Regions from separate parts of the Homo sapiens genome. Here region 2 is linked to region 1. The links come from fine-mapping of genetic effects on gene expression. A gene starts in region 1. The other region holds a variant in brackets. All regions are shown on one strand. Distances are between the middles of the regions.

Region 1 (5,372 bases):
ACCTGCCAAGGAATTGTGCCAGGTCCCGAGAACACAGAAATAAAGTTTTTGACCGCAAGAAGAACTAAGATAGGGGAACCCAAAACATCAGTTCGTCACTAGATTCCCCAACAGTTTCAACTGGCTCTCTGGCCATCTGAGAAAAACGATGAAAGAAACATCCCACTCCATCAGGGCATCATAAAACCACCCTGTCAATCCAAAACTTTGTCTCCAAATCCATCAGCCTCCATCTCTTATCTTACACCCTCACTGACCAAGTCATCCAAGCATTAGCATGAGCTTGAAATACAACATCTGAGGCTTCAAGCAGCAGGACAAGAAACTTCTAGAGGTAAAGGTAGACATCACAGTCCCGCCTCAAATGCAAACATCAGAGATGAGGGTGCTAGCTCAGATCCCCCTTCTACCCAGTTACTCATACAAATTGTCAGCCCTGCAAAGGAGTCCAAACATGTCAGTTACACTCCTACTTAAAGTTGGACCAAGAGGATCAGAAATGAGAGAATGGACTCAACTGGACGAGCCTTGCTTGAACAAGACCCCCGTGATCACCGTGCCCTCGAGGAAGGAACAGGGTAGCCCAGCAAGGGCCGGCTTACCTCCTTGAGAAGCCCTACTTTTTTCTTCAGCACCTCACATTTTCGCAGTTTGCAGATCTGGTGCGTGCGGCGGTTGGTACAGCTAGTGCAAGCGCCACAGTTTTCCAGCCGCCGGCAGGGCTCACAAGTACCACACCGTTTCCGTTTCTTTCGACCATCTCCACCCCCTCGGAGTTGGGACTCACTCCCAGCCATGGAGAGCCCAGACCCCGGGAAGCTCCCTACCATCACCTGGCGCTGAGGGAAGTCATAAAGGCCTGGCAGGTCCGGCTGGACGGCCAGGGGCACCTGAAACTGGCTCATGATGCTGCCAGAGGTGGGGTCATAGGTGCTGGGGCAGAACCACAGTCGTTTCCTGCCACCTCCAAAGGCCACCAACAGGTCCTTCTCGCCTAGAACAGTCAAGAGTCTACAAGGGTGAAGGCAAGTGGCTTCAGTCTCGTGGATGGATGCCTCTTCTCAACCCCTCTTCACCTCCTCTGCAGCAGTCTGATCGGACTCCGTAGGGGGCCACTCTCCCACCTGCTGGGGCCCAGGATCTGGGGGAGGACACCAGCAGCAGCCCTCAGAAAAGGGATCATCTTGGCCCGGTGGGTTCTTCACCCTCACCCACCCTGGACCCAGGCATGAGTTGAGCAGGTAGGGGTGTGGTGGGGGCAGAGCTGAGTGAGCAGTTTCTCCTGGTATTTTTCCTCCAGGGTCTGGACGCTGGAGAAGGCAGTGCTGCCTGAAAAAGACAGAAAGGGGAAGCGCATCACTCGGGGCTCAGGGACAACTTTCACGTGTCACTTCTTCCTGTTTCTGGGAAGAGAAAATGGGGGAAGAGATGGGGCTTGCTCAATTGAGGTCCTGCCCAGAACCTCAGGCAGGACGCACCCAGCACCCGCTCCCTGTCTGAGGGAGGCGGCCTCGGGCCTGAGGGCTGCTGGGGGCCCTGGATTCAAGGGGGTGATCAAGGTGAGATTTCTAAGAAAGTTGCCCTCTTCCCCACCCCCACGGGCTGGTGAGAGTTTCACCAAAATTCCCCCACACGCCCTGGCTGGAGGCCGCCGGGCCCTCCCTAGGGAGCTGAGCTTTCAAAATAAAGTTTGCTGAGAGCCTCGCTCGGCGGGACTGCCCCGGCGCCCCCGGCACGGAAGCCGCCTGGAGGTGGGGGCGCGCCCTGGGCAGCCCGCGCCCGCCGCGCCCGCCGCCGGAGCGCAGCCCGCCAGCCCGACTGGGGAGGGCGGCCCGCGCCGCCGAGGGGCGCGGGGAGGGGGGCGCGCTCGAGCCGCGGGCCGGGCCGCGCGCGCGCCGCCGCTCGGGCTCCTTTGTTCTGGGGCCTCCGCCACTCCGCTCCGGCGGCTTCGCAGCCCCCGCCCCCGCCCCGCCACCCCCGCCCGGCTCAGCCGCACAGCGCCCCGCAGCACCCCAGTCCGGCCCCCCGCACCGGAGGAGCGGCCCCCCGCCGGATCCGGGCCGTCCCCTCCCCCTCCCCCGGGCCGGGCCCCCCGCGCCTCCCGCCGCCCCTCCCCCACTCCGGAGCCGGAAAGGCACCGACTGCACCGACCTGCCCGCCGCCTCCGGGGCGGAGCGCACAAAGGGGCAAAGTTTCCCGGCCCGCGCCGCCGCCGCCACCACCGTCGCGGCCGCCGCCGCCGCCGCCTGGGGCTCCCGCCTCCCGGAGCGCCCGGCCCGACCGAGCTCAGCGCGCGGAGCCCCCCGCCCGGGCCGAGGAGGGGACGGCGCAGGAGGAAGGAAGAGGCAGCGGCGGCCGCGGCGGCAGCAGCAGCAGCAATGAAGGCGTCCGCGGGACTCCCCGCCCCCCGCGCACCGCGGCACGTGCTCGCCCGGGGACTCCCCCGCCCGGGAGGGCGCACACGTGCGGCCCCGCCGAGCCCCGCCGGCCCGGCCGGGCCCCGGGCCGGGCGAGAGGGGGGTGGTTCCCGCGGAGGGGAGGGGTCGGGTGGGCGGCCTGCGAGCGGCTTGGGGCAGGCTCCGGCCCGGCCGCCGCTTCTCTGCACCTGCAGTGGCTCCCACCCACGCGGTCGGCCCTCCCGGGAGGCGGCCGCCCCCTTCGGGTTGGCCACCCTCGCCCTCCGGCGGGGCTGCAGCCGGGGCCGGCGAGGCGGGGTGGGGCACGCGGACCTTCCAGCCTAGGCCCTCGGCCGAGCCTCGCTCGGTGTCCCCACTTCCTGCCACTCCCTGCGGGCCAGATCTGTCCGGGACAGCCCCGGCGCCCCCGGGAGGCCTGAGCGCCGGGCCCGACTGACCCCCCTGTCCCAGCTGCCGCTGGCTCATTCCGAGGCAGGACAATGGGGGACATCGCGCGTTTGCGTACCGAGTCAGCCTGGCCGGCAAGAAGGGGTTGCTCGGGGGCAGAGGCTAAGGGCACCCTCGCAGGGGTCACGGCCGAATGCCCTGTCCAGGTGGACCCCACGGCCCTGCCATCACCAGCCTCCCCCGCGCCGCGCTCGATTCTTTCGCGTCGAAAACAAAGACTAATCCGATACCCCCGCCCTGCCTCCCAGAGGAGGGGGAACGGGCGCGTCGCGGAGGGTAACTGAGGAGGACAGCGTTCAGGAGGGCCTCGGACAGCCTCGAGGGGGCCGTGGGGCGACTAAGCCCTAAAACCCGGCGCAGACACTTTGAAGAGTCACCCTGGGCTACGTTCCAGGCAGGGGGTAAGGGGCAGGGCTCAGGAATATTTCCAAGTTGCCAAACTGCCCGTTCTCTCTGCTGCTTTTTTCCCTCACCTGTTGTGCAGGCCAAGTTGAAATTCCAGGTTAGATTAATTCAGCCCCACCCATCTGGCCTGACTGCCAGGCTGGTGCCTGCAACTGCCTTCCACCTACCTCGGTTGCAGGGGAGCAGGGTGGGTCTCTGACATACACGCGCACACACACACTCGGGCGAGTCCTGGCAGAAACAGCCACAGGACGGACTGGCCTGACCAGTTTGGGCGGTGCTCACGGAGCCAGGTACCTGGCAGGCGTCGCCGCCCGGCTGCAGCTAACAGCTTAGCCAGAACTGGAAAAAGAGCATTCGGCCGGCTATTTAGAAAGAAAGAAAAAAAAGTAACTGATCTGAAGTAGCGCTGTCCAGAAAGCCCTAGGCGGTAAAGCAGCCCGGGTTCTATCTGGAACTTCCCTCTGATTTTGACAGCCTGCTCCAGGGTCCAGGTTGTCAGCGAGGGAGTGGGTGGGGGTGAACATGGCTGCAATATCCACTTCCTACCATGGCCTTTGGGAGGACTGAAGAGTTTCTGTTCAGGGTAGTAAGACTAGAACCGAGACGAAAAACCAAGAGAGTGCAATTTTCAAACAGGGGAACAGGTTGCAGACTCGTAATTGTTTTTAATGTAATATATTTTTAATAAGCAACTTTATTAATAAAAAATGTGTATAAAGAAGACGTGGAGACTACAGATACTAGAGGGGAAAAATCACCAAATTACAACCATATTTAACCATTTGCTATATTTCCTTGTAGCCTTTCCTATTTGTGGATTTACTCACACTGATTATACAATTTGCCATCCTCTTTTAACTTAACATTGTACCATAGGCATTTCCCTGTTTGGTATACAGTTTTCAGAAAGTGTGACAGTGAGGTGAAGAAGATGGCTCAGGAGCCAGAGAACTCTGGCTTCCAAACCTGAATCTGCCACTTGGTAACAGTGTGACCTTGGACTAGGTACTCCATCTTCAAGGGAATCCAAGTAAAAGACTTAATATAGGGCTCAATGAATGACAACAACTAATATTGTTTAATCCATATGACAACCTTGTGAGGTAGGTACTATCATCAAACCCATTTTATGGATAAGAAAACAGATTAAATAACTTGCCCAGGATCACTCAGCTAGTAAGTTGTGGACTTTCAGAGGAGCCCAGCAGCCATCCTCTTGTATTCTGTCTGGGTAAATGGCACCAGCAAGTTACTGTGTCATTTACTCTTTGCCAGCAATCTATGAGAGGGTCATTTCATAAAGCCCTCTCGTTTAGGTAACTGGGTGAATGCTGGTGCCATTCACTGTGACAAAATGCAGAAGGAAGGATGCCTGGGGATGGAGACATTCGTGTGAAAGTGAGTGTGCAACTGAGGGGGTGAGGCCTGGGTTTGAGATTTGGGCCCCATCAGTGAGCAGACAGCGAGGCCTCAGTTGTGGAGGAGCTCATCCAGGGTGGATATGGAGTGTGAGAGGGAAAGGCTGCCAGGACAGAGCCCCAGGGAATACCAGCCCATGAGGGACAGGAGCTGAGAAGGCGCCGCCAGAGAGGTTGGAGGGAACCCAGCCAGGCTAGAGAGCTGCCTGTCATATCTTCCCGGCCTCTGGAACCTTACACTTCGGCAGTCCTGTTGCTCATTCCTTCTGCCTGGGGAAAAACCCTTCCCACCCCACCCCTTCTCAGCTACCCCTTGTACCTGCCAAATTCCCACTCATCCTGCAAGTCATAAGTGCCAGTTCCATGAAACCTCCAGCTGCTCAGATGATTCCAGAGCCCCACCCACTCTCCCTCCACAGAAGTTTGACTCTCCCTGCCTAGGAACAGTTATCTCATCGGCGCTGGGCACTGGAATGGTTTGCATGTTTCTTTCCCAGTTACTACAAACTCCTGGAAGGGTAGCACGCTGTCTTTCACCTCATAACCCTAGACCTAGCAACCAACCACTGTGTTGAATGAAGAGACGAGGTGAGTAGACCCTAATGAATGACAGACCCCAGTAACACTGAAGACCCATAGGCTTCTTTCCTGCTTTCTTTACGACTTGCACAAACTGGTCAGG
Region 2 (5,372 bases), 160 kb after region 1:
TACTGAAATCTTCTACTTATGCTGCCTACCCTAAGATGATAAATAACTTAAGGGAAAGGTCTTATTATGATGAGCCACACAAACTGTAGGCAGTTACTAATTATTTGATGATTTGCATGATTATGATAAAGGTTAAGAGGAAAAAATTTTTTCCTGTATCACTAAATTTGCTACAAAATAAGTACAAGTGAGGAATTTTGGCTCTGCTAGACCCCAACAATAATCCTATGATTGGCTGCTTTAGTAGAAAGAGAACAGTAAAAGCATTCATCAGAACATAATATGTCTAGTTTAACCACCAACTCTTTTGTCTAACAGCTGGGCTATGTGGGCATAGGCCAAAGAACTAAATCTCTTACTCATAAATTACTGAGTCATGAAAATAACACCTTCAGCACTCATGTCTTTGAACGGCAAGGACAGCCAATATGTAGGAGTTGCCAGCAAAAATGATTAATGTTGATGATATTGTGAAGTTCTGTGGTTTTAGCAATTCTGAGCCAAATAGGCGAGGCACCAGTCACCAGAAAGGAAAAAGGAAACTGTAGGTGTCTTACGTGATATACTTGTTATAGAGGATGAAGGCATGTTCAATGTTGCCTTCCTCAGAGTAAATGGATGCCATTCGGATAATCTCAACTCCAGAGCGGAAGTACCGACGGGGTGGAATGTCTTCATTCACCTCTACCGCACTACCCAGCTGGGAGAGAGCCCTCACCCGGTCTTCGGGCGGGAGGCTCACATCTCCATGGTCAGACATCAGGACCAAGTTCTGAGACAGAAAAAACAGATGGCATCAATACCGTTGCCCTCATCATCCCAGCAGTTTTACAGTTTATCTCACAGACCTCTACCTTAAGAAGAAAATATAAGAGAAACATACCAAATGCTGTGGCTCCTATTAAATAAGGACTTTCCTACAAGAAGGCTGAGACCCTCAAGGAAGCCCAAATCACAACGATGAGAGTACTGGCAGACTAGAAAACATACAACCCCTGTACCATAATTAGGTGGTATAAGGAGTAGAACCACAGTGGACCAACCAAAGGTTCAGTTCAAGTTAATCAAATCCTTTGCCATTAGGGGGCTCCGCCCACAGCACTGTAAAAGTGGGAACAGCATCTTTTATTTTCTATTATTTCTCCTTCCAGATACCCACATACCTCCACCCCAGTACCTGGCAGAGTGCACTCAGTGAACTTTCTTGAGGATTGTTAACTAACTTCAAGGTTGACCATTTTTACTTAATCTGAGAGTAACTGACATTTTCTGTGGTATCCTTTTTCATATTTGAGCACAAGGTGAGTTAGGGGAACTGGTCTGGGAATTAATGCTCATAATTGTAACTCTGCTCACTAAACCACTATAGTCAATCTATAAAATCATTCATTCATCATTATCATGGCAAGAGACTTAAATCTTGAAAACAACCATTTACTCATCTTCATAGACTAAACACTGAATAACAAAAAGGCACGATGGTAACTTGCATTGCAAAAACCCCTGGTGTCCCAAAACTCCAGTAATTCTAGTCTTTCTAGATATAGTTGCTGTTAGAATCAGATTCCAAATTCCAACCAGATATCACCACTATCATCTCCAAAATAAAACTGGGCATTTGACACACATTGCATTACAGCAAACCCTAATCAGTATGCTCTAGAATACACAAACTACAGTAGAATAAATCTTGGAATTCAAGGCCCTGTGGCAACTGGCCCTCCCCAACAGAGATCTTTTGCTTCAGTCAGGATTCCAATCCGCCCAGGCATCCTCACATTTCAGTTTCATTTATCTATCCAGTTTTTCTTTTCTACTACAACTCTTCCCTCAGGGGTAGTCTTCTCTCAGCCAATTCCATCTTTAGGTCTCTTCAATATTCGGGTCACAATTCCTCCACAAACCTTCCCCTCTAAAACACCCTCACTAATAGCACAAAAGCCGTGAGGACTACTAGGGATGCAGAGATAGTCCATCTCTCACGAGGCCTCCTTAGGGACTCAGAAAGCCGCAAGCATATCTAAAACCTCCCCAAGTAATTAGTAAACCTAGTCCACGGCCCATGAAAGTTAACTGAAACAGAGGATGCTTGTTGCATCTCAGTACCTCTTGGGAGAGGTTCTTGTGGGTTAAGAAAGGAACCACCTCCCAAGGCCAGGAAGCGGCGCCGGTTACCACC[T/C]GGTTGAGCAATTCCAAAAAGGGGATGCAGCATCTGCAAATGAGGGGGAAAGGCGGCGTAAAGGACCGAGGGGGAAATACGAGGAGGAGAAAGGAAGTAGCAGGAATGAGCGGAGGGGGCGTATACAGTAGGGAGGGCTCTATCGACAACTGCTTGAGGAACCCTTCTTGAAGGCACTCAAGACGAACTTGCCAACCCCAGGCACAATCATCCAGGGTTTTCGGGATCTTTCAAATGCAGTAGGCGGGGAACCGCTGGGCCTGGCTGGTCAGGCGCCAGCCCGCGGAGACAGAAGCCGTCGGGTGCCTCGAGCGAGGCAGGCCGGGCAGGGGACTCGGGGAGAGTAGGCTGCAGGCCCCACACTCACGGCGGCCGATCCCCTTCAAAGTCCAACCACGCTCGGAGGCCCTGCCCCACCACGTTCCCGGGACCCTTCCCCACCTTTCCCCGCGGATGACACCCGGAGGTTCCGGAAACGTCACATCCGGCGCCCGCTCCGCCCACTCCCGTTCGTCTGTCTATTACATTCCCAGTGATTTAGGACTTGGAACGGAGAGCTAGTAGGTGGGGCTAGAATCGGCACCTGCGGAAAATCCGACCAATGAGGAGCGAACGACACAGCGGCCATCTTGGTAAAGGAAAAGGAACAAGGAAGAAAGTGGAACCAATTAGCAAGCTAAGGTTTGCTTTTAAAATTATTTTGATTTGGGGTAGTCCCTCATCACACTCACAATACTCCTGCATTTAAGGAGGGATTGCTGATCCCAGCACAACTGCAGACTTAGCTAAACTAACCAGGATTTATAAATTGGGGGACAGAAAGTCTTTCGAATGTATTTTTTAGCTTGTATTACATTCTACACAAAAATTGGTAGTCTTAGATATTAGGCAATATCTAAGACTAATTTTATTGCTTAGAAAAGAACATAAGTCTAACTTTTTTTTTTTTTAAGACAGGGTCTTGCGGTGTCACCCAGGCTGTCACAGGAGTGCAGTGGTGTGATCATAGCTCACTGTGGTCTCCAACTTCAGGGCTCAAGCGATCTTCTTGCCTCTGCCTCCCAAAGTACTGGGATTACTGGCGTGTGCCACCGCACCCAGATGAGACTAACGTTTTAATGTCAAAAAACCTATAAAATATTTGGAAAAAAAGCGTTTAATCTCTAAGAGCCGCTATGCAAAAGCAGTGGAGACACAAAAATCTGTATGACACTGTTCCTGCCCTGAGACCGGGACAAGGTGGTTTTATGCATCAAATACAGAATGGCACGTTCTGCATGTAGATGTGTGTCTGTACGAATCCATATACATCCTCTTTACAAAAAGGTCCTACAAGCTTGCTAATCATTCTGTCTCAGAAGACTTTGTGAAACATTAGGCTTTGGTTTAAAAGTCTAAGTCTCTGGGGGACACTTTCCCAAAATTTGGGAGCCTCCCTGTGAGTTTGTTAGTGTGATGGCATGACCTATTCTTCAAGGTCTAGCTTAAATCCCTAATTCAGGTGTTGCCTCCTCCACCTAGCCAGCCTCCAGATCTCTCATTTCTCCCAACCTCCGTTGTGTATATTTCTGTTGGAGTTACCTGAAGTGATTTTGTGTAGTCATCAACTTTTCAGACTTAGGGTTGAAAGTACTTGCTTGCATCATATCACCTCCCCTTCTGCCCCCAGCAAGCATTAATGTGCATGGGTCTACTATCAACTCTCATGGATCTACTGCAGATAAATCTGGGAAGATAATTGTATAGGGCACTCTACTGTGTCTTCAAAACTCTCTCTACTGACTCTCTTCAGAATGTAAACATGATGGGTTGGGCCTAAAGAAATTGATGCACTGGAGATGCTGGTCATTGGGTGGGCATTATAGTGCAGATGGGGTCCTGGCAGGAGGCAACACAGGTCAAAATCTGATCCATTCAACCTCTCACTCAGTAAATGTTTACTGAGTGTCTACTATGTGCCAGGTTCTGTTCTAGGTGTTAGGGATACATCAGCAAACAAACCCAGCAGGTGGATACTCTAATGGTGGAAGCACAGGTAGAAGTACAGCTGGTGGGGTAGGGAGGGGCATCTGCTCCCATTCAGCACAATCTCTAAAGTAGTTCTTTTTTTTATAATGTTTAGCTTAACAAGTAAAGAAAATTTACAAACATCCTAGATTTTAAGATTATGATGAGAAGACTTTAAGAAGCTATAACTGAGACACACATATAAGGGGTGTGCATAGTCGTAAACATAGCTAGCGCCACATAGAGGCTGTTCCTGATATTAGAAAGTTAATATGCCCAGTTGCTAGCAGTTCTTAAGGTAATAGCTAAGTGAATATAGGAAGCAGGATCTAGTCTTTTTAGGGAGAGAATTTGTAAATGTTGACCAGAGTTTTTGATATCTGGGGCAAAGTTCAATACTCAGCTTTCTAGGGACCTGAAATAAGAAAATCTTGGCCAAGGTAAAAATTTTACATTCCTCATTTCTTGTTTAACTGGAAAAGTTTAAAAACTAAACAATTTTGTATACACAATCAGGAAATCAAAGCTATAAAAGATTCTTGGCATAACTGATGAGAATATCCTACCTACCCCTGCCCTAAAGATTGGAGGCTAAGCGTGGAAGGTATTCCTTCAGCAAATAGGCTTCAGCAGTTCACCTGGCAGACTAGACCAGGTTAGGAATTGAGATGCTCTTTCCTTCCGGTGCTCACTCCCAGCCATGAACACTTTTCCTGAATATAGCAGCCTCCATCTGGCCGCTTGCATATGCCAACGTCAGGTCTCCTGCACTCCTGCATGCTCATTCCTACTTGCTCATTTTTGGGCAGCAGCAAAAGATGCCTAGAAGGTGAAGTTCTTAATCTGAAATGTAACATCGGGGTTTAGAAAACACAGGCCTGGACCAGGTGCGCTGGCTCACGCCTGTAATCCCAGCACTTTGGAAGGCTGAGACAGGAGGATCGCTTGAGCCCAGGAGTTCGAGGATATAGTGAGCTATGATTACACCACTGCTCTCCAGCCTGGGCAACAGAGTGAGACCTCTAAAAAAACAAAACAAAACAAAACAAACAAAAAACCCAGGAGGATCACTTGAGCCCAGGAGTTTAAGGCTGTGGTGTGCTATGATCTCACCTGTGAATAGCCACTGCATTCCAGCCTGGGCAACATAGTGAGACTCCTATTGCTAAAAAGCAAAAAGAAGAAA

The links. PIP is the estimated chance that this variant, and not a neighbour inherited with it, causes the effect.
Region 2: its variant is fine-mapped to the expression of TET3 in whole blood (INTERVAL, PIP above 0.99).

The regions. Positions count from the first base shown.
Region 1 is chr2:73,981,937-73,987,308 of GRCh38, reverse strand. TET3 (tet methylcytosine dioxygenase 3) reads right to left here and starts at 2,399. Exons shown (of 12, transcript NM_001287491.2): 1 at 2,152-2,399; 2 at 603-1,329. The coding sequence starts at 905. RefSeq lists enhancers at 977-1,206, 3,100-4,023 and silencers at 1,687-1,856, 2,280-2,478, 2,237-2,926.
Region 2 is chr2:73,826,245-73,831,616 of GRCh38, reverse strand. It overlaps STAMBP (STAM binding protein), which reads right to left and starts at 2,656. Exons shown (of 10, transcript NM_213622.4): 1 at 2,107-2,656; 2 at 558-772. The coding sequence starts at 760. LOC105374807 (a long non-coding RNA gene) reads left to right here and starts at 1,219. Exons shown (of 3, transcript XR_940246.3): 1 at 1,219-1,301; 2 at 2,713-2,860. RefSeq lists an enhancer at 1-1,159 and a silencer at 2,667-2,885. The variant T/C (reference allele first, on the strand shown) is at 2,180.